Linked DNA regions of Homo sapiens: all the other regions are reported to be linked to region 3. The links are microRNA targets in miRTarBase. Many come from high-throughput screens and were not tested one by one. Region 3 holds a microRNA gene; each other region holds the end of a gene's coding sequence.

Region 1 (7,108 bases), not on the chromosome of region 3:
TTTTATTTTTATCTGATATAAACATAGCTACTCCTATTTGATTTTGGTTCCCACTTGGGTAGAATGTCTTTTTCCATCCCTTCACTTTCAGTCTATATGTTTTTTGATAGGTAAAGTGAGTTTCTTATGGGAAGCACATAGTTGGGTCATTTAAAAAATCCATTCAGCCAGTCTATATATTTTAAGTGGGGGATTTAATCTGTTTACATTCAAAGTTATTATAGGTAAGAACCTTCTTCTGTCATTTTATTCATTGTTTGCTAGTTGTTTTGTATATCTTTTATTCCTCTCTTCCTCTCTTATTGTTTACGATTGTGGTTTTGGTAGTTTTCTGTAGTAATAAGGTTTGATTCTTTTCTCTTATGTGTATCTGCTTTGCCAGTGGATTTTATACTTTTGCATGTTGTCATGATGGTAATGATCCTCTTTTCACTTCCAGATGCAGGACTCCCTTGAACATTTCTTGTAAGACAAAAAGCTCAATATTGTCAGGATGTCAGTTCTTCCCAACTAAATCTATAGATTCAGTGAAATCACAATGAAAATATCAGAAAGGTTTTGGGTTTTTTTTTTACAATTTAAATTTTTACTAGAGAAAGATATTATTCACATCCACAATTTCTTAAAGTCCTTTATAAATGAGTGTATTCCATAAGAAATACACTAAAATCATTACTTATGTTTCATAGAGGGAAAAAACTATGAGAATACTATTAACCCAAACTATATCCATATTATACTTATTTCTTAAGCATTTACATGTTCAAATACGCTTGTTGGATAGTGATCATTCATCCCCACAGTGGTAAATTTCAGCATAATATTAAGTGACTGAGAGAGACTAAAGTAGTCACATGTAGATTAGATAAACAGATACTTATTCTGTTATACCTAAGCTTACTTATAAAGCAACATAAAATGAGCATTGGATAACAATGAAAACAAATGTAAACAAACAGAATTAAATGTTACTCCCTTCCCTGAAAAACAACAGATAAAAGGGCTTCTTGCTTTATTGAATACAAAACATGATCTATTGTAATAAAAAGGTAAGACATTGATTTTACAAAATTATATTTCCAAATACAGATAAAAAAATCTTGAACAGTTAATTCAGATTTTATTGATCTAAAATGTGCAAAATATCTGATAATACTTAAGTTTATTAAATTCATTGTACATAGGCTGATATCATCCCATACAAAAAAATGCTCAGTATCTTGTTAAGATTCAAAATAGTGTTTAATTATCTGAGCTTAAGATTTATTGAACTACTATCCAAATAACAACAAAAGTCCATATTGTAAAAGAAAAAAGTAAAACTAAAAATTTTCTGATTATTAATTGACTTGAAATTCATTCCCATTAAAACATAAAACTATAGCCAATATCCATTTGCAAAGTGAAGAAAAACTGGAAGTCCCCATGATAAATACACCAATTCCAAATAAAAAATTAAAATCAAATTTTGCTATTACAAAACACACATGATCTTTTAAGTTATTCAGGTTTAATAGATTTACTAAGGATAGAGTTCATAGAGCATGTATTTGGTACTTCTGTTTAGACTCAGGTATTTGCAAAGTACCCCAAGAGAAGGTTGAGAAGGTAAAATAAACATAAAATTGTGATACTTCTCTCCACACCACAACAAAGGTGCTTGGATTTAAAAATTCAATTTGTAACTCTAGAAGAAAAAGAGAAACAATTTACAACTCCAAAATATTTTCCAGAAAAATGACAAAACTGGTAACTACCTAGAAATGTTATTAGTGAATCAAAGTGCAAGTAATGACAGCATTAACATCAAATGTATTTGAAGACTCAAAGTTTTAAATGTTTTCAATGACAACTAGTTGATTTTTCTAAGGTGGTAGGTGTGAAATAAAGATAATACAAATCTAATTTTTCCAGGAACTATAGCACTGCCCGTCCCCATGAAATTAAATTATAATTTCACTGTTCAACATAATATAAAACTGTTTTGAGTAACAGTGAAATAGAAGCATGAATTTAGATACACACCAGCCCTATATGATGGACTTATTCACACATAGTATTTTTGATAACAACCTAATTAGATACTGTCTTTCATTGCTTACTATAATTCTGAGAAACCACTTTTAACAGTATACATTTACACTACCACTTAACTAAATGGGGACATATAAATATATAAATTTTTAAAGAAAAAAATTCCAGTTATTTAGAGGAGAAATAAAACTTCAATTATTTACTTTTTTGAAACTGCATTTAGATAAAAAGGTATATGGTTTATGATACTTTTCACAATGTAATAAATTTATATTCCAATTTTCTCATAAACGAGAGGTTGTAAAGCAAAATATTTGTTCCTTGAAAATAACCTCTCTCTTCTAACCCTGGTAAGAACAATGAGTGTGCCCTTAATTTCAAGACTCTTGTTGTCATCCATGTCAATTGTCTTTTTCATGAAGTATAATATTTTGAGAGAGAGAGAGAGTTGTAAAAATTAAAGAGAAAACCTGCTTTTGGAATGCAGCAATTCTAAATCATTTCACTAAGAAGCATCCTTTGATATGCTGGTCTGAATTTTTAATATAAAACCTAAGCAGTACTTATTTCTGAAGTAGAACTTTCTCCAGTTTTAATAACTTCATACATAGCAAGACTAAGGACATCAACCTGTGCTTTTGAGATTTTGGTAGGTGTTCTAATAATGTATTATTTTAGATATGGCTCATTGTCAAATTGGGTGGACAGAGATTTCATGAATTGGTTACAGAAAGCTAACTAAACTCTTAATGACTGAATAATGGTTTGCATTTTGCTTGAGCCAAAAAAGATGTTTAAGCCATGTACCACTACATTCCCTGCTTAACATTCCTAAGTTTCTTTATTCTTCATAGTTTTCTAATGAACATATATTTTCCTGAGTAAGATTATAAAAAAGTTAACCTTTCTTCCAAAAGTATAAAGACAAATAAAATGTCGACTCACAATACATATTTTTTGCATAGCATTAAAGGTGCGGAGATATTGCCTGCTCCTCTTCATTATGATTGGCCCACCTCTTAAAAAGACTGCAACAGGCCGGGCGCGGTGGCTCACACCTGTAATCCCAGCACTTTGGGAGGCCGAGGCGGGCGGATCACGAGGTCAGGAGATCGAGACCATCCTGCGTAACACGGTGAAACCCCGTCTCTACTGAAAAATACAAAAAATTAGCCGGGCGCGGTGGCAGGCGCCTGTAGTCCCAGCTACTCGGGAGGCTGAGGCAGGAGAATGGCCTGAACCCGGGAGGCAGAGCTTGCAGGGAGCCGAGATCGCGCCACTGCACTCCAGCCTGGGCAACAGAGACTCCGTCTCAAAAAAAAAAAAAAAATACTGCAACAGATGATTCAATTGTCTAAAATACTTCGAAGTACAGAAATTAAATGCTTTAGCCCATAAACATATCCCTTATCTACTGTGTTGCTAAGGAACATATCAGCCATATCTATCATGCACACTTCAGCAGTCTCTTGGCAACCAGTGGGAAGATGGTAGACAACTTTTTCCAGTTGGGAAAGTACATTTCCATTTAAATGTTCCTGTGACATGCTTTTCCACCCATTGTCTTGCTCTAGATTTTCAACTTTCAATGAAGTCTGACTGTGATACTTTTTTGTATACATTTTCCTGTGATGGGCATACATCTTGGACAAGCTTTTGCCTACTGAAGCCTCTATTTTTCCATTCACTGTGGAAGTTAATACATGAAAGTTATTATTGCACTCTAGTACTTCTGTGTCTGACAGTTGTCCTTTGGACAAAAACTTTTCTGCCAAATTTCTGTCATTCAGTTTTGTAGTGATTGGCTGAGATGAACCTTCCTAAAGAAACAGTAATGAACTTGCGTAAAAGTTAAGCTGCTTCTGGTTTTCAAACCACTGCAGAATTTTCTCAGTCTTCTGAATAATGGCAGCAACAGCATCTTTTATTAAGCAGTACCCATTATGAAAAAATCCGAAGACTCCATCCTTTATAGCTTCTTTTGTTAAGCTTCTTCCATAATGTTGGTTTGTGTCTCATAGCTATGGGAATGAACAAGATAAACCCTCATGCCAAGCACCAAGAACCCAATCTCTTCCATTAATGGGTCCTTGCTGACCTATTGCTGAATTTTCTCAGATGAGGCAAAAAGGATCATAGCTTTTTTGCCCTGTCTTTACATCCATTATACAGGGCTTATTAAATTTATGGGTCACATTTTCCAGTTTTAGGTATAAATCGTTTGGGGCAGCGGGAGGTGGCCAGATGCCATAATATTTTGGCAAATATTGTCGTAGCTCTAGAAGAACACCATCGGTACAGTCAGCAGCATAAACCATATTATAGAATTCCAGCTCTCTTGGGCCCCTTGGAGGTGGTTGTAACTGTTTCAAAACTGTGCCATCTGGATGTTGCAGTATACCCATTTTGTCCTTCCCATACCTGTGCCCGGCCACCTGATGCAAGATGGGCACACAGCCACTGAGGAAGCGGAGTCTGCCGCCTGCCGGCTGCAGGGTGCCCTTAGGGGTGGCCTCGATCGCCGGTGGGGTCCGCATTTCTGGGGGACCCGGCGCCTCGACCCGGAGCGGGGATGGTGGCTCTCTTGCCATAACGGAGAACAGAAGCGGTAGGGTCAGCAAGAGCAGGAAAAGAAAAATAGGGGGAGGGAGGGGGCGCCGGAGAACCCAGGGGTCGCTCAGGCTCGGGCGCGAGGAGGCCCGGGGGTTCCCGCGGCTGGTGCCCGCTGAGGTGAGGGGAGGGGGCCCATGACGCCGCGGCGGCGCGGGCACTCCCTCTGCCCAACTCTCGGCTGAGCGCGGCTCCCGGCTCAGGCCCCTCTGCCGCCGCAGCCGCGGGCCCAGTAGACACAACCCAGCCGAGGAGCAGCAGCAGCAGCAGCGGCGCCCCGCGCTCCCTGGGGCCCTCCAGAAAGTTTTTTTATGGATATCAGCAATCTAATTCTACAATTTATATGGAGAGACAAAAGACTCAGAATAACCAACACAATATTGAAGGAGTAGAACATAGTTGGAGGACTGACAATATCCAAGTTTTAAGACTTACCGTGAAGCTACAGTAACCAAGATGTTGCGGTATTGGTAAAAGAAAAGAGAAATAGGTCAATGGAACAGAATATTAAAAGCCCAAAAAATAGATCCAAATAAATATAGGCAACTTATATTTGATAAAGGTGCAAAGGCAATACGATGGTCCCAAATAAAAAATATAATGTATTTGGAGATCAGAATCAAGGCCAGAGTAACCGAGTGTAGCAAGGGAAGGAGATCAGCTACAGAAGAGATTAGAGAAGTCAACAGGGTTTAGCGATGCAACATCCCTTAGGCTATGAAAAGAGATCAATGTTTGTAGCAGGATTTTATTTTGAGACACTGACTGAGGTTTCTCTCATTCTCCTACCACCTCACACAGTCAGGTACCTTCACCATCCTCAGGAAAAAAAAAAAAATATATATATATATATATGTGTGTGTGTGTGTGTGTGTGTGTGTGTGTGTGTGTATATGTATATATGTGTGTGTGTGTGTGTGTGTGTGTGTATATATATATATATATAATATATATATATATATACATATCTTATATGCACAGCCCTCTAGGAGAAGAGGTTGTTCAAGGAGCACAGATATTAGAATTTTTGCCTTTGAGTTCCAAAACACAGCCTTTAAAGTCGTGGTAGAAATAACGATCTTGAAAGACAACATTCTTTAACAGCCAGACTTTCTGAGACAGGAAATAATAATGGCTCCATATATTTAGCATTCATTGTGTGCCAGGCACAGCTCTGAGTCCCTTATATTGAGACCTCAGGAAAACCCTGATATAGGTAATGCTGTTGTCTCCATTATATGGTTGAGGGAACCGAGGCACAGAGAGAGGAATTAACTTGCTCAAGTCACGCAGCAGAGCCAGGACTTGAGCCCAAGCAGTCTGGCTCCAGATCCTATGCCTCTGAAAGTAAGGGAAGAGAGTCACAGAGAGAACGCACTGGGAGGGGGAGAAACAGGGGTGGGAAGTTGGTGGAAAAAGGAACTAAAAATTTCTGAGAGCCTGCCAGGGTGGAAGCTGCACCCCTTTCCCTTTGTTCTGAGCTGAGGACTCCAGTCTTGGGAGGACATTCCCAGGACAGATGAAGGGATCTGCCCCTATGGTTGTTTCTCGCTGAATCAGAGTCTCAGTCTTGCTCCTTAAACCCATTCTTAATCCTGTTCCCTCTCCTGCTCAAACACCTCCCAGGGCTCCCTACTGCCCACAGGATAAAGTTTTTACTTGGGCTCTGGGAGAACCCACTAAGGGCCTAGATGCCCTGTGCTCAGCCAGAGAGGCCGTCAGGGTTTTGGGTTCAGAGACGTCACCCTGCCTCCACCCACTCACCTCCCTTTCTTAGATCCCACCAGTCCCCAGGAGCCCCATGCTGGCTGTCAACGAGGCTCAAGCAGAGGTGTCAGCATAGTTTTGTTTCTGGGACTCTACAGAGGTGGGTGGGTGGGTAGGACAGTCACTGTGAGTTCGCACCCAGGGGCTCCACCCGCAGCCAAAGTCCACCCTCTGCGCGCAATATCAGCTCGGGTTTCCTGCGGGGTTCAGTGTGGGTCGGCAGGATGCGGAAGTGCAGCAGGGTGAGCGCCAGGACCACCTTCATCTCAGCCATGGCGAACGCCTGCCCGATGCAGTTTCTGGGGGCAAAAGTGAGGGAATCTGACTGTGCCCATGACCCCCATCCCGGCCCCATCATGCTTAGAACCTGGCCTGGGACCCCAAACGCACCCACATAGGCTTGAGGGGCAGAAAGAGGGGATAAGTGTCCACAGGACTCCCATGTGTGCTTGCATATCCCCCAAACCTGGCCCAGGCTCCTACCCCCAGTTCAGATAAACAGATGAAGGAGGGGACTCTGAGCACACCGCAGACCCCTCTAGGACCTTCCCAAACCCATTCTGTGAACAGTTGCCCATGAACTCCTGAGGAAGGGAGGGAAGGAGAGCTGGAACTGGGACCATCTGTAACTTCCCCCTTTTTGGACCCCTGCACCCATCATGCCATCTCTGCCTCAGACACAGGCCATCCTTACCTG
Region 2 (7,108 bases), not on the chromosome of region 3:
ACCTGCCTCAGCCTCCTGAGGAGCTGGGATTACAGGCATGCACTACCATGCCCAGCTAATTTTTGTTTTTTGTTTGTTTGTTTTGTAGAGACGGGGGTTTCACCATGTTGGCCAGGCTGGCCTCCAGTGATTGGCCCGCCTCCCAAAGTGCTGGGATTACAGGTGTGAACCACCACGCCCGGCCTGATACCTAATAATTTTTAAAATTGAATCGGTCCTTACAAGTTTGAAACATCACATTTATAAATCAATGTGTAGGGCAGAGAAGAAAATGTTAGGGGGACACATACAAGATTGCCATCCAGGGCACATTTGTTCTATCAATTCCCATCCCCACTCCTTCAACAGATTTTCAGCCCTAGATCTCTTGGTCCCTTAAGAAAAGGCAGCTGTGTTTGGTGTCTTTTTTCTTACCCTGTGTTTGGTTTCTGTTAGGTACAGGCTTTCTGTTGGCACCAACGAGAAGATCCAGCTGAGCTCCCTCATTGCTGCATTTCAAGTCACCAGAGACCTGATTGTTGCAGAGGCCTAGATGCTCTGAGGGCCATTCACAATTCTCAGGGCTCAGCAGTGATGGGAGAACAGAGGACAGTTCCAGGATAAACTGCTGCCTGGGGCTGTGGGATGAATCAGTCACCCCGAATCTTGGAAAAACCCCCTTCCAGGAGAGGATGGGCAGGCATTTAAAAAGTACCATTTTTGTGGTTGTTTGGAGCAGGGATGTACAAAATAATTTTAATGTATTAACTCATACTGCCTGTCTTTTATAGGGGAAAAAAATAACCTTTTTTATTTTAAAGTTATAAGGTTTTTACCTTTTAGTTGCTTGGATGACAGGGAATTAGCCTACCCCATTTTGGTCTGGAACAGAAGACTTTCAAATTTAATATGGTCCAAGTGTCTTCCTACTCAAGGTAAACATTATCTCCAAAATTACATTTATGATTCTAATATTTGGCATTGTGTCTGTATCTAATTTAAACAGATGTTAATGGACGTCTGGCCGAAACTATTATACTTTTATAAGATGAGCTGAATCCTCTTACTTTAAAAACTGGTCTTTTTATTTACCCTCTGTGGTAGAAGAGTCACCAGCAGGTTCCAAATTGATGTGTATGATAGGAAAAAAACCTTAATTTTAAATATAATATAGAGCCTTAAACTATGCCACTGGGTGGCAGAGGCTGTATAAAACGCACTTGTTTTCATGCAGGAGCGGGGCAAGTAAGGTTGAGCCTGACTGTAAACCTAGAACTGCGGAAGGACTGGGACTTTTGTACAAATTTCACATTTATTTTACAGCAATCATGCTGCATTTGTGTTAGTGTTCTTTATAATAAAAAACAAAGCAGCCTCCTGGCTGGCTGTGTTACAAGTGACTCTTCCTTAGACAGCTAGAAAGATGCTGACTTTGTCAAACTTGCATTTATATGAAAACCTTCTGTCTCTAATATCACAGAATAAACTTTCTTTAGATGCTGTTCTTTATAAAATGTCAAATTCTTAAACTGTCAAATGGAAAAAGTCACTATTCCCTTTGTTCATGGAGGACTCACCCCCTTAAGGACAGCGGCAAAGTATGAAGCTAAATATCTGATGGCCAACCAGGCCTCAAACCACCCAGAGGCTCAGCATCTGCTGTACCTGGAACTTCAAGATAACCATGAAATGTAAACGTTGGCCAATCCATTCCCAGCTCTTCTGCTGTACTACTTGTTTTATGTGTTTATTTTTTGAGGCAAGATCATGCTCTGTCAGTCACCCAGGCTGGAATACCGTGACACGATCGTGGCTCGCTACAGCCTCCATGTCCCAGGCTCGAGCAGTTCTCCCACCTCAGCCTCCTGAGTAGCCGGAACCACAGAACCACAGGTAAATGCCACCACATCCTCAGCCCCCTGAGTAGCTGGGGCTACCATGCACACCAGCACCACACTAAGTTTTTTTGGCTATTTATTTATTTATTTTTTAAATAAAGATTGGGTCTTATCTCACTCTGTTGCCCAGGCTGATCTTGAACTCCTGGGCTCAAGCAGTCCTCCCACCTCAGCCTCCCAAAGTGCTGGGATTACAGGCATGTGCCGTCACACCCAGCCCTGCTTGTTTTAAAAGGGGACTTTTTTTTTTCTTAATGGAAAAAAATGAAACAGAGAGCCAAAAGCTTTTAACTGTTGTTTTTTTCTTTTCTTCAATGAAAGCCTCTCATTTTGAAAAGACATGTTTTTCTTCAAGCAACAAAGGTGGTAGAGGAAATTCCTCAACTTTCTCAACGAGTCATGTAACGTTACACTGGCCTCCATAAAGCACCGATTAAGAAAGCTAAAGAATAAGATGTTGTATTTCTTTTAAAATAATTTAAAATATATTAAATTTTCCTAAGGCAGGTTTTGTTTGAATGAGGTGTCTTGATTAGATAACTACATGCCACTGAAGGAGAACAGTACTTTTAAGGAGCTATTTTTGTTTCGCAGTAGAGTTGAAACCAGCTGATTAATCCAATGAAGTTAAACAGCAGAGACAGATCTCGTACATAAGAGTATCAGCTAAAGTCATGACTACACCAATTCTTTACACAATTAAGACATCTTTGCAACTGTTCAATTTAAGTACTATGGTTTTTAGATAATCGAGAAAAACACAGTTGTACCTTAACATCTGTTGAGAAAATACAAATAAATATGATGCTAATAAATGGCCACTGATAACTCAGTAGCCATCTGAATAGTCATGCGGTTTAAGAATACATCCTTGTATAATCTGACATACAAATTTGTCATTTCCTGCACATGCACACCATTGTTAAAAAAAAAAAAAAAAAGCCAGTAATAGTGTCTGGATCGGTCAGGAGCACGGCCTCTGAGTCCCCTGTAATTTAGTTAAGCTAAATTAATACCTCATACCAAATGGCTCCAGGAAAACTGTCCTGCAGGTCAGAAGGGAGCCCAAGAAGAAAAGCACTTGGCCAACATCGAAGCAACTCTGACCACAGCAGGAGAGAACTTGAACCAATGCTACCACTGCATCAGAAACACAAGGATAGGTACTAGGCAGAAGCCATCGTTCCCAGCGGAGGGAGTGTGAGCTGCTCTGCCACTAGAGAGGCTCTGGAGGCCTACTTAGTTGCATAATCAAAACAACATCAGTAACTGCACTTTGAATCAAAACAAGCAGAAAGAGTTCAACACTTGCTGTTCATAACTGGACTGAAAATTTAACGTAAGGCTCTGTTGCCGTGCAAGTGGAATCTCTTCCTCTAAGACTGACTTTCACATGCCAGGGAGAGAAAGATCCATGACTAGTACACTGGAATCTGGTTTTGCTACATTCTATTCACAATCCCAAAGAAATGCTATTTCAATGCAAGACCAGATGTTTGGCCCATTATTCCAGCAACTCCCTTTGACAGGACGATTTACCCTGCTACAAAGAAGCACAAGATGTGGTGTTGCTTAAAAAGTCCTGTATGTGAGGAACTCTTTCATTTTCTTGGGGATTGGCAGTGCTAGGACTTGGTAAGTTGTTAGGAAACTTCGAAGGGCTTTCCGGCATAAGTGCTTCAGTGAGGACAGGACCCTAGGAGCTGTCCAGAACTGGACGTGGCCATCTCTTGTCCTAAAATGAAACAGAAACCGATGCTAAGACAGAGCTTGGATGTTCATGTTTTCATGAGGATGAATACTCATGTTTCTGTTTTGACTGCAAAGAGCAGGAGACTTCGGAGAGTGAAATGTAACCCTGACTGTGGAAATGGATGTAAAATTGTGGTGCTGAATAATTAAAGCTGCTGATAGGATTAGAAAAACTCAAGACACCTGTGATACCAAAGCGCTCTCTCTGTCTCTCTCTCGGCACAGCCCTTTCTAAATCTGACCACAGTTAGTTCAAAAGTATAAGGGGGAAGAGTGCCACCTACTGAATTATAGATGTTACCTGTAAAGTGGTCTTTTAGCCCTAAATGGTTTCCCATATATTATGCATCATCTCAATTTTATTCTCCCTTGTGAACTTGGCCCATTAGGTGGCATGACTTACAGATCTTTAATTACATTTAGGTTAAATATTCAGAGAAAATGGGACACCGTTATTAGCAAAATCGATCATTTGAGTTTTATATAATCTTGAATTGCCTTAAAGCTTTCCTCATAGGCAAGAAAATTCTAGATGGTTTCTTTCCTTAAAAAGCTCCATGGTATACTCAGCAGAAAGCACCACCCATCTGTTCAGCTAACAAATACATACCCTGTGGCAATGACTCCACCATGTGGAAAAAATGTGCAGCAAAGCCCATTGGTCATAGGAGCAAATGCAATGGGAGTTTTCAGTTCCAGGGCCCAGATCCTGAGGAGTCTGGATGGGGAGAGAGAACATCTGGATATTAGCTGACCCAGGGCCAGACCAAGAGGGCCTTGCTGCCATTACTTGCAAGCACTTGTTCTGAGGCCATGTAAAGAGAGTTCTCTTCGTTACCTGTCATCTGCCACCGTGGCAAGGTACAAGCCTTCTGGAGAGAAGCACACAGATCTCAGTGAGCTAATGTGGACGTCACTGTCATCCATGGCGGGGTCAACCTGGGTGTGGCTGGGAAGGAAAGAAACAGGATGGCAGGCCTGGAGTGATGGCTGCTCTCCACCCTCCATCATCACCCTAGGCAGGAAGCCAAACTGCCCTGGCTACAAAAGGGCTCAAGATGCATTGTGTGCCCCTCGTGGAAAAGCTTGGGATTTGCACACTGGGAAAAAAAAGGGTATCTCAGAAGGCTCCAGGTGTCCTGTGGATGAAGGGTTACTAACACTTCCTTGTGCTAATTTGCTTATGCAAAGTAGGTCAGCCCTCACTTTAATGCCACAGTAGAAACTGCAAGTCTTTTTTAGGCTAAGATACATGATAATTATAGGACTGCCTATTATTTGCTTCATAAAACAACAGACACAAAAGGAAAAAGGAGACCAAGTTTGTGAGAACATGAAACTCATTTTGGAAAGCACAGTTTCGATAAGAGGCTCTTTCTGAACTTGTTACTACAGTTATTAGTAAATGGAAATAAAGAGTCATATTGAGGCTTCATAATGCTGATTCCGAAGAAGTACACACAGCCACCTGAATCAGGAGACTGGAAGACACTCAAAGCTACTTGAGAGGGCTTAATTGACAAGGCATCACTAAGAAGCAATGAACCAGGCCAGGCGCAGTGGCTCATGCCTATAATAGCAGTTTGGGAGACTGAGGCGGTGGATCACCTGAGGTCAGGAGTTTGAGACTAGCCTGGCCAACATGGTGAAACCCCATCTCTAATAAAAATACAAAAATTAGCCAGGCCTGGTGGCGCACGCTTGTAGTCCTAGCTACTCGGGAGGCTCAGGCAGCAGAATCGCTTGAACCCGGGAGGTGGAGGTTGCAGTGATCCAAGATTGCGCCACTGCACTCCAGCCTGGGTGACAGAGCGAGACTCCGTCTCAAAAGAGACCCACTGTGCCTTTTTATCCAGCTTGTCCCCTCCCATGTCCCAGATTCTAAAAGAGACATGTCTAATCCCAGGCAGGTTCCTCATCAGTCCCCCCACAAAAAAGTCATAGCAGGGATTCAGTCCTTACTGGAGTGACCTCAGCCTTTCGCCGGTGTAGGGGTCCCACATAATCACATTGGTATCGTAAGAAGCCGTGACAAGCAGGGCAGAGTCGGGGGAGAAGTCACAAGAGACAACACTGCTTTGATGGCCCTCTAGCTTCCGAATTAACGTGTAGGACCTCATGCTCCATAGAAAGACCTGTGGAAAGTAAGAAGTGCCTGGTTAGGGCAGAAGCAAAGTGCTTAGGACTCAAACGGAGGGAGGGAAAGGTACCACCACCAAATCTGCAGGCCCTGCAGCCAGGGCTGATTCTCTATCCCTTTTCTACAGCTCTTCCAGAACGTGTGGTGTAGGTTTAAATAAGGCAACTGGTCTGGATTCTTGAGGATTTAAAACAATGGGCATGCTCAAGGAGCTCACTATAAGAGAGAATAAACCAGATCAGCCTTAGGAAGACCCCTGCTGAAACGCATGTGCAGAGACTTCTGAGTCTGCTTCTGAGTCCTGTTTGCCAATAGGGTAGTCGTATGTGCTGATGAAGACCTGAGCCAAGTGCTATCTTATTCCACTTAAAAATAAATGTCAGCGGCCAGGCACGATGGCTCATGCCTGTAATCTCAGCACTTTGGGTGGCTGAGGTGGGTGGATCACATGAGGCCAGGAGTTCAAGACCAGCTTGGTCAACATGGCAAAACCCCATCTCTACTGAAAATACAAAAATTAGCCAGGCATGGTGGTGCACGCCTGTAAGCCCAGCTATTTGGGAGGTTGAGGCAGAAGAATCACTTGAGCCTGGTAGGTGGAGGTTGCAGTGACCTGAGATCACGTCACTGCACTCCAGCTTGGGCGAAAGAGTAAGACTGTCTCAAATTTTTTTTAAAGGGTCAGAAGTGAAATCTGCGGCCACCCCACAAAGTAGTGGCAGGCTGCCAAGGCATTTTACACCCCCCACCTTGTGTATGGAACCATGGAAATCTGTCCCAAGACTGGGCCTCTGACCTAGCTCATCACTTTAAACCTTTGTGAGAAGCATTAAGAGGATTTTATTTTTATTCCTTTAAGAAAACCCTCAGGCCAGGCGCGGTGGCTCACGCCTGCAATCCCAGCACTTTGGGAGGCCCAGGCGGGCGGATCACCTGAGGTCAGGAGTTCAAGACCAGCCTGGCTAATATGGTGAAACCTCATTTCTACTAAAAATACAAAAAATTAGCCAGGCGTGGTGTAGCACGCCTATAATCCCAGCTACTCGGGAGGCTGAGGCAGGAGAATCGCTTGAACCCGGGAAGCGGAGGTTGCAGTAAGCCGAGATTGCGTCATTGCACTCCAGCTTGGGCAACAACAGCGAAACTCTGTCTAAAAAAAAAAAAAAAGAAAAGAAAAGAAAAGAAAACCCTCCAAACCACAAAAATAAATGATGAACCACCTGGGCTGTACCAAATGGTGAACTCTCAACCTTCCCTTCAGTCACAGCAAGTGACTCAACGCAACACAAAATTCAAACAGAACTGTTCTCAAATTGTTCTTGGATTTCTAATACCTGTT
Region 3 (7,119 bases):
GCAACCAAAGCAAAAGACACAAACCACAGAATGAAACGCACCCTACAGGATGGGAGGACAGGGTTATAAGTCACGTATCTGGACACATAAAGAACTCCTCTAACTAACGAGGCCGGCACCGTGGCTCACACCTGTAATCCCAGCACTTTGGGAGGCCAAGGCAGCAAATCCATTTGAGGTCAGGAGTTCGAGACCAACCTGGCCAACATGGCAAAACCCCATCTCTACTAACAATACAAAAATTAGCCAGGTGTGGTGGCACGTGCCTATAATCCCAGCTACTCGGGAGGCTGAGATGGGAGGACTGCTTGCACCCAGGAGGCGGAGGCTGCAGTGAGCCAAGATCATGCCATTGCACTCCAGCCTGGGTGACAGAGTGAGACTCTGTCTCAAGAAAAAAAAGAATCCCTATAACAAGCAACAAAAAACAAAATAGGCAAAAGACTCACATAGATGTTTTTCCAAACACTTACAAATGGCCAACAAGCATATGAAAAGACACTTAACATCACTATCATTAGGAAATGCAAATCAAAACCACAACGAGGCTGGGTGCGGTGGCTCACGCCGGTAATCCCAGCACTTTGGGAGACCAAGGCAGGCGGATCACCTGAGGTCAGGAGTTCAAGACCAGCCTGGCCAACATGGTGAAACCCCATTCTACTAAAAATACAAAAATTAGCCAGCCGTGGTGGCATGTGCCTGTAATCCCAGCTACTCGGGAGGCTGAGGCAGGAGAATCGCTTAAACCCAGGAGGTGGAGGTTGCAATAAGCCGAGATCATGCCATTGCACTCCAGCCTGGGCGTCAAGAGAGAGACTCCGTCTCAAAAACAAAACAAAACAAAACAAAAAAAACGCACAATGAGATACCACCTCATACCCATGAGGTTGACTCCCATCAAAAAAGTAAACAAAATGAGTGTGGACGACGATGTGGAGAAACTGGAACTCTTGTGCGTCACTGGTGGGAATGTGAAATGGGGTGGCCACTGTGGAACCCAGTACGGTGGCTCCTCGAGAAATTAAAAATAGGCATAGACCCAAAGGGATGAAAGAAGAGAGGTGTGCACACCCATGGTCAGAGCAGCATTCCTCACAATAGCTAACAGGGAAGCGGCCTGAGTGTCCACTGACGGATGAACGAATAAGCAGAAAGGCCCCAGCCATCCACACAATGGAACAATAAATAACCAGCATACAAAAGGCAGGGCATTCCGACACACACGCTGCAACGTGGATGAACCCTAAGGACGTTATGCTCAGTAAAAGCCGTCAGTCACAAAATGGCAAGTACTGTATAATTCCACTTCTATGAGGCCTTTAGAGTAGTCACATTCACAGACTTGAATGTGGAGGTTGCCAGGGGCTGGGAGGTGGGAGTAGGGAGCTGTTTCACGGATACTGAGTTTCAGGTTTGCAAGATGTAAAAGTTCTGGAGATGAATGGGGAGGATGGCTGCGTGACCATGTGCATGTATTTAACACTACTCGACTGTGCACTTTCTGTTAAAAACAGCATTTACAATGGTTATGGTGGTAAATTTTACATTTTGTGTATTTTATCGCAATTGAAAATTGGAAATAAAAAAAAAAGAGAGAGTTTTCCCAAAGGTTTAGATGCCAAATAGCCAACGGAGAAAAAGAACAAGAACAGGAATGGGCAATGTTTAAATAAATACATAGAGCCAGTATATTTAACAAAAAATGTAGAAACTCATCAGTAATCAAGGAAATGAAAAATTAACATACATCATTTTTGCCCACCAAATTGGTAAAAATAAAAATAAGTGAACACTCAAGAGCTGCAAGATGATGGGGTTGGGATAGCACATGGCCCTGGTCCAGCGTGGCTGGCAGTGGGCGTGGGTATCTGATGGGATCAACCTTGGAAGCCAAGTCTAGCCTGGCTGTGCATCCCACAAGCCCTGGGCTGCATGCTGGCCTGCTGGGGTCTGCACATCCCCGTCCCCACAACCCTCCACCTCCCCGACCCTTGCCAGCCAGGCCCCTCACCCTTTAACTCATCAGCGGCAAAGAAGGCAGCAAGGCAGTCTTCCAGGGTGACGACAGGCCCCCAAAACCAGCTGGGGGTACAGGATACCACAAACCTACAGACAGAAAAGGAGTGCAGGGGTGCTGCCAGGGCCTGGGCAAGAACAGGAGCTGAAGGGACTCTGGCTGAGGTCTGTCAGGCCTGAGCCGCAGAAGGACCCTGAAGGCCCAGAGAAGCAGCCGGGCACGGCGGGTCGGGGCAGAGGCCTGGAGCCAGACACGTCCGTGTCCTGGGCCGAGTGACATCATCTCTCCGCAAGCCTGGCCTCCTTCATCTGTGTTGCGGCCATGATCATGCTACCCCCTCCCTGGGGTCATGCGGGTCTCTGGCCTCAGGCAGGAGAGGCAGCCCTGGGAAAGCTGCTGCCCTTCCCGCCAACCAGGCCTGTGTCCTGCTGCTGCCCTCCCTTCAACCTGCCATGTGGTCACCTCCCTGCTGTCCATCGCCCTCCAGCTCCAAGGGACTATCCAATCCTGGCCACTTCAAAGTAGCCAAGAAATCCCCTGCATATTAAGCCAACTCCTCTGCAGGCTTCGGCCCCCAGCTCCTCCCAGGACCTCCCTGGTTCCCCAAATGCATGGACTTCACTGTGTACTGTCTCCCGCCCAGGAAAACCAGGACAGGCCCAGCCCATGTCGCCCAGTAGTGGCAAGGTGGGCGCACCGTCGGATGTACTCCACAATGAAGGCCAGCCAGCCCTGGGCGGCATAGCTGTCCCCACAGGCGCCTGGCTTGGCCGGCACATTCTGGTAGATGGCTGAATGGAGCTTGGCCAGGTCCTCCTTTCCAGGAATGGGCAGTGATAAGTCCTGGAACGTTTCCACTGTGGTGGATACCTGTGGGGTTGAAGGTCAGTCTGCTGCCCATCCTCTGGCAATGTCTGCACCCCAAACCCCAAGCAGCAGGTGAGGGGCAGAGGGACTACTCCCCAGGCCATAGACACGGGATCCACGCAGGCAGGGCCCTCCCCTGGATAAAAGCAGGGAGCACCCGTGGAGAGCCCACCCTGCACCCAGTCAGGGCAAGAGCTGCTGAGGCCACTGGCAGCCTGGCCCAGCTCCCCCCATCCCTGGGGCACCCACCCGGTCACAGGTGAGACACTGCACAAGGCTGAGAATGGAGCCGTCAAAGATGTCTGAGATGACGCTGCGGTAGCGCTGCTCCTTCCGCCTCCGGCTGCCAGCACTCAATACCTGGGCTGGGGACACAGCACAGGACTAGCCCAGCCTCCACCTGCCTGGCCGGGGCGAGGTGCGGGCCCTGCGGCTTCCTTTGACAGGATGTGGAGTGACATCCGTGAGTCACATGACTGGGTAAGCAATTCACCATCTCATGCCTCTGTGTCATCCTCTGCAAAACGTGGCTCCCACACTGGTGTCTCAGGGGTGTACCTGAGAGGAGCCCATAGCCCGGCCCTCCGCCACAGGGGGCCATGAGAAAGGCAGCTACGGGCGTAATCTGTACTCCCAGCCTCAAGCTGACCCACCCTCCCGTGCCCCCCGAACCTTTCTTGAGCACGTACGACGGTGCCATCCTCACGGGGCTTGCACGAGGGGGGCTGCTAGACAGCTTGGCATGGCCCTCGTGGTGGTGGACGGGGCTGCAGGGGCGAGAGGAGCTGCGTAGGTGAGCATCATTGTCCGGCTCTGGGGGCAGAGAGGGTACCATGCTGGGCCAGGGCAGCCAGGCCAGCTCCACGAGTGGGCAGGAAGATGACCTGCCAGCCCCTCCTAAAGGGACGAAAGCCTGACCCTAATGTGTCTCCTCTGTCATGTGCCCACTCCTGGCCCCAGCACACAGGCCGGAGCAGACCTGTCCAATCCATGTCCGGCTGGAAGGCTCAGGGCTCTGGGAGAGGGCTCTGAATTGGGCTCCAGCATTATGAGCTAGGGGACCCTGGGCACATCACTGAGCCCCCCCGGAGGCTGACTTCCCCACTGTCATTCGGGTCTAGTGAAGAACCCGTCCCCCGGGGGCTACTGCAGGTCGGCGCTCAGCACCCGGTAGGTACTGGGCCATAGGCTGAGGTTCCTCCCGCAGTCCCCGGCCAGCTGATACCTGGCGTCCGGCAGGGGCTGGAGGACCGTGGTGACGGGGGCTGGGCCTCCGCGGGCTGGTCGTCAAGGGCAGCCATGGCAGTGTCCACATCAGCGTCCTCGTCCACTTGCTCCGAGTTTGTACGCTGCTGGCCCCAGGAGAACTTGCGGTCCTTCATCCGCTCCTTCTCAGAGATGGCTCGGCCCGCCTCATCTGGGATCAGCAGCTCCGTCTCGGCCTGCGAGCTGCCCCCGCCACGCCCCTGCCCGTCACCCTCACCCCGGTCACTGCTCGAGTCACAGGACAAGAACTCATCTTCTGATGGGCTCCGGTCACCCTCCCGTTTCTCATCCGTGTCACTCGAATCTGAGTCCCGAGCCTCCGTCAGCGCCACCGTGGCCACCACCGGCTCCTTGAGCTCCTCGTGCAGCTGGTCCATCAGGCAGCGAAGGAACTCTTGGGTGTCCTAGAACCAGGGGCTGCATCAACAGGGCTCCCCTGGAGGCAGGAGGAACCAGTCTCCAGCGCCCTGTGGCTGATGAGAGCGCCAGCCTCCATCTAGGAGGACCTCATGGGCGCCCCCTGCAGAAGAGTTGCTCACCCCCACAGCGGCCTCCCATGGCAGTCTGTCCTAACCCCATTCTTCTGAGGATAACAGTGAGGACTGGAGAGGCTAAAGGACACCTACCAGGACACACAGCTAGAAAGTGTCAGAGCCAGGTATGCACCTGGGTCCATGCAACTCCCCGGCTCCGGCTCTGAATCTCCTGCCTCTGCTGCAAGCTCAGCACGGGAGGGACAGAGAGGCAGTACCACATTAAGCCCGAGCCACCTTTCTCCCTACAGATGAGACCAGTGGAGGTGGGCAGGGGGGTGGCGGAAGGATGAGGGAGTGTGATGCCAAAAGAGGACTCACCCGAGTCCTGCCCCAAGCCACGCTACCCACAGGCCAGACTGCCTGCATGCTCTACCCTTCCTCTGGCTCCCCCTGCTCCCTCAGTCCCTGTGCCAGCCCCCACATACCCTCACTGCCTGCTCTCACCTTCCCACAGACCTGGTCATGACTCAGTCTAAGCTGCCCCTGCAGGCTGCCTGGGTCTCAAATCCCAGCAATGACCATTTTATCCTGACCACTCTGTGACTGGGCCACCAGCACAGCAGGAAGCCAAGGCAGCAGGGGCTCGGGCAGAGGCGCCCAGTGAGCCCCACTGAGATCTGTGTGCTCACACAGGGGGTGCACTGGGAGGTCAGAACGTGGTGGTGGCAGCAGACCCCAGCAGCTAGCGGGTGCTCGGGTGGTGCTGGGCATTGGAGAAGGACTTGGGTTCCGAGCCCAAATCAGCCCCAGCAGTCCCTGACCTGGTTGTTAGAAGCAGCCCTCAGCCCAGGCTCTGATCCCCAGGAGGCAGGGGTCACGTAGCAGCCAGAGCCAGCCTCATGTCACACATCTGGGAAGAGGATCCCGGCTCTCTCCACTCATGTGCAGGGAAGGGAGGGCTCAGGAGGGACTCCCCAAGGCAAAGTGTCAGGCTCCAAGATCAGAGGAATGAACCACGAGGTTACATTGCATCAGGGAGGGGACACGTGTCCTGTGGCAGGCACGATCAAAGGCCCTTTCAAGAAGAGGCTTTCAATCTGCCATCTACTTCTCTTTCTGGTTCTTCCTTTCAACAAAAGTACTATGTGTTCCTTGCCAAAATCTCAATCCATGCAGAAGCACAAAAGAGTCTTTTGGCCCTTAAGAGGCGCCCGCAGCTGCGTCTACAGTTCAGCCTCAGAAGTGTCCCCACACGATATCCTAAAACCACAGAAAGGGATGCTTCTGCCGGAGCCCAGATGGAGTCCTGCCGCAGCGCATGGCCCTCCGTAACGGCATCCTGACCCAGAGCTGAAAGCCGGCAGGGCGCCTTGCACACAGTCAGGGTGGTGCTGTGCTGAGGGATGGGCTCAGGTAGGCCTGAATGCCATCTCTGCCAGGATGTGCTGTGTGACCTGGGTGAGGGGTAGAACCTCTCTGAGCCTCAGCTCTTTACCTGTAACGTGTGGGTGACAACAGTGCCCACTTTGTGAGACTTCTATGAGGACTAAGTTGTGACCACTTAAATGGTGCTCAGTGAATTTTAGTCATTGTGCATGTTATCACTCCCCAAAAAGAGAGGTGTCCAGGCAGTGCTGAGCTTCTCAAGCAGGAGCCAAAGGCCCAGCAGACTTCATCCTGGGACGGGACAGCAGGCAGGGGGTAGAGGGCGGAAGTTGTCCCCACATGACTGCCACTCCGTCCATGGTGCTCATTTCAGGCAGCACAAGAGGTGACCCAGCCAGGTCCAGCTCTGCCTGCAGGCCTGGCATGAAAGCCCAGGCTGTGGGCCATCTGGGGCAGGAGGCTGGAGGGCAGGAGCCATCAGCCCGGGGCTGAGGTGTACGCGTGGCTGCACTCTGTCTTGGTCTCATTATTTTATAAAATAGAAAAATGTGATTGGTTTCAAAAGGGTTCTCTAGATTTAAAAAAAATTTTTAATCAAACTTTTTACTTTAATAAAAGTGAAATTTTGCCTGTGGTTTGGGGAAATGAAACCCTGTGTCATTTTGGGTGCAACGCGGAGGCCCTGCAGCAAGGTTGCCTGGGTTCAAATCTCCCCTCCGCCGGGTGCAGTGGCTCATGCCTATAATCACAGCACTTTCGGAGCCTGAGGTGGGACGACTGCTTGAGCCCGGGAGGTCGAGGGTGCAGTAAGCCATGACTGCACCACTGCACTCCAGCCTGGGTGACAGAGTGAGACCCTGTACCCACCCTCCCCCACAAAAAAAAGAATTCCCCTCCACCATTTACTAGCTGTGTGGCCTGTGCAAGTGGCTCGGCCCCTGAACCTCAGTCTGTCCATCTGTGAAGTGGGGTTAAATGTCAGCAGGTTGCTGGGAGGCTCCACTGTCCTCACACGTGTGAAGGGCTTAGGAGTGAGAGCCTGGTCCGTGAGACCTGCCAACCAGTGCTCAGCTGCCATTGCGATTTTCCACTCTGGTTTTGGCG

The links. The annotated mature microRNA hsa-miR-6855-3p reads AGACUGACCUUCAACCCCACAG and lies in region 3 at 2,891-2,912, opposite strand. An mRNA with a match to its seed (bases 2 to 7 or 8) in the 3' UTR can be bound and repressed. Matches are read on the target gene's strand: a 7mer-m8 pairs with bases 2 to 8, a 7mer-A1 pairs with bases 2 to 7 and ends in A, and an 8mer does both.
Region 1: miRTarBase lists CYP4F11 as a target of hsa-miR-6855-3p. Seed matches in the 3' UTR shown: 7mer-A1 at 5,407-5,413.
Region 2: the mRNA of RFC5 is a reported target of hsa-miR-6855-3p. Seed matches in the 3' UTR shown: 7mer-A1 at 630-636.

Annotation. Positions count from the first base shown.
Region 1 is chr19:15,907,200-15,914,307 of GRCh38, forward strand. It overlaps CYP4F11 (cytochrome P450 family 4 subfamily F member 11), which reads right to left. Exons shown (of 12, transcript NM_021187.4): 11 at 7,106-7,108; 12 at 5,178-6,710. The coding sequence ends at 6,533. It also overlaps the pseudogene LOC729654. Among named protein-coding and RNA genes, the nearest start is that of CYP4F2, 13 kb to the left of the region's middle.
Region 2 is chr12:118,030,747-118,037,854 of GRCh38, forward strand. RFC5 (replication factor C subunit 5) reads left to right here. Exons shown (of 11, transcript NM_007370.7): 11 at 436-1,488. The coding sequence ends at 532. It overlaps WSB2 (WD repeat and SOCS box containing 2), which reads right to left. Exons shown (of 9, transcript NM_018639.5): 6 at 5,592-5,764; 7 at 4,468-4,578; 8 at 4,240-4,347; 9 at 1,941-3,612. The coding sequence ends at 3,450. Among named protein-coding and RNA genes, the nearest start is that of RFC5, 18 kb to the left of the region's middle. RefSeq lists enhancers at 4,867-4,926, 4,937-4,986.
Region 3 is chr9:129,865,443-129,872,561 of GRCh38, reverse strand. MIR6855 (microRNA 6855) reads right to left here and starts at 2,957; the gene lies at 2,891-2,957. USP20 (ubiquitin specific peptidase 20) reads right to left here. Exons shown (of 26, transcript NM_001110303.4): 11 at 4,113-4,557; 12 at 3,560-3,700; 13 at 3,137-3,252; 14 at 2,718-2,890; 15 at 2,015-2,109. RefSeq lists an enhancer at 1,843-2,342.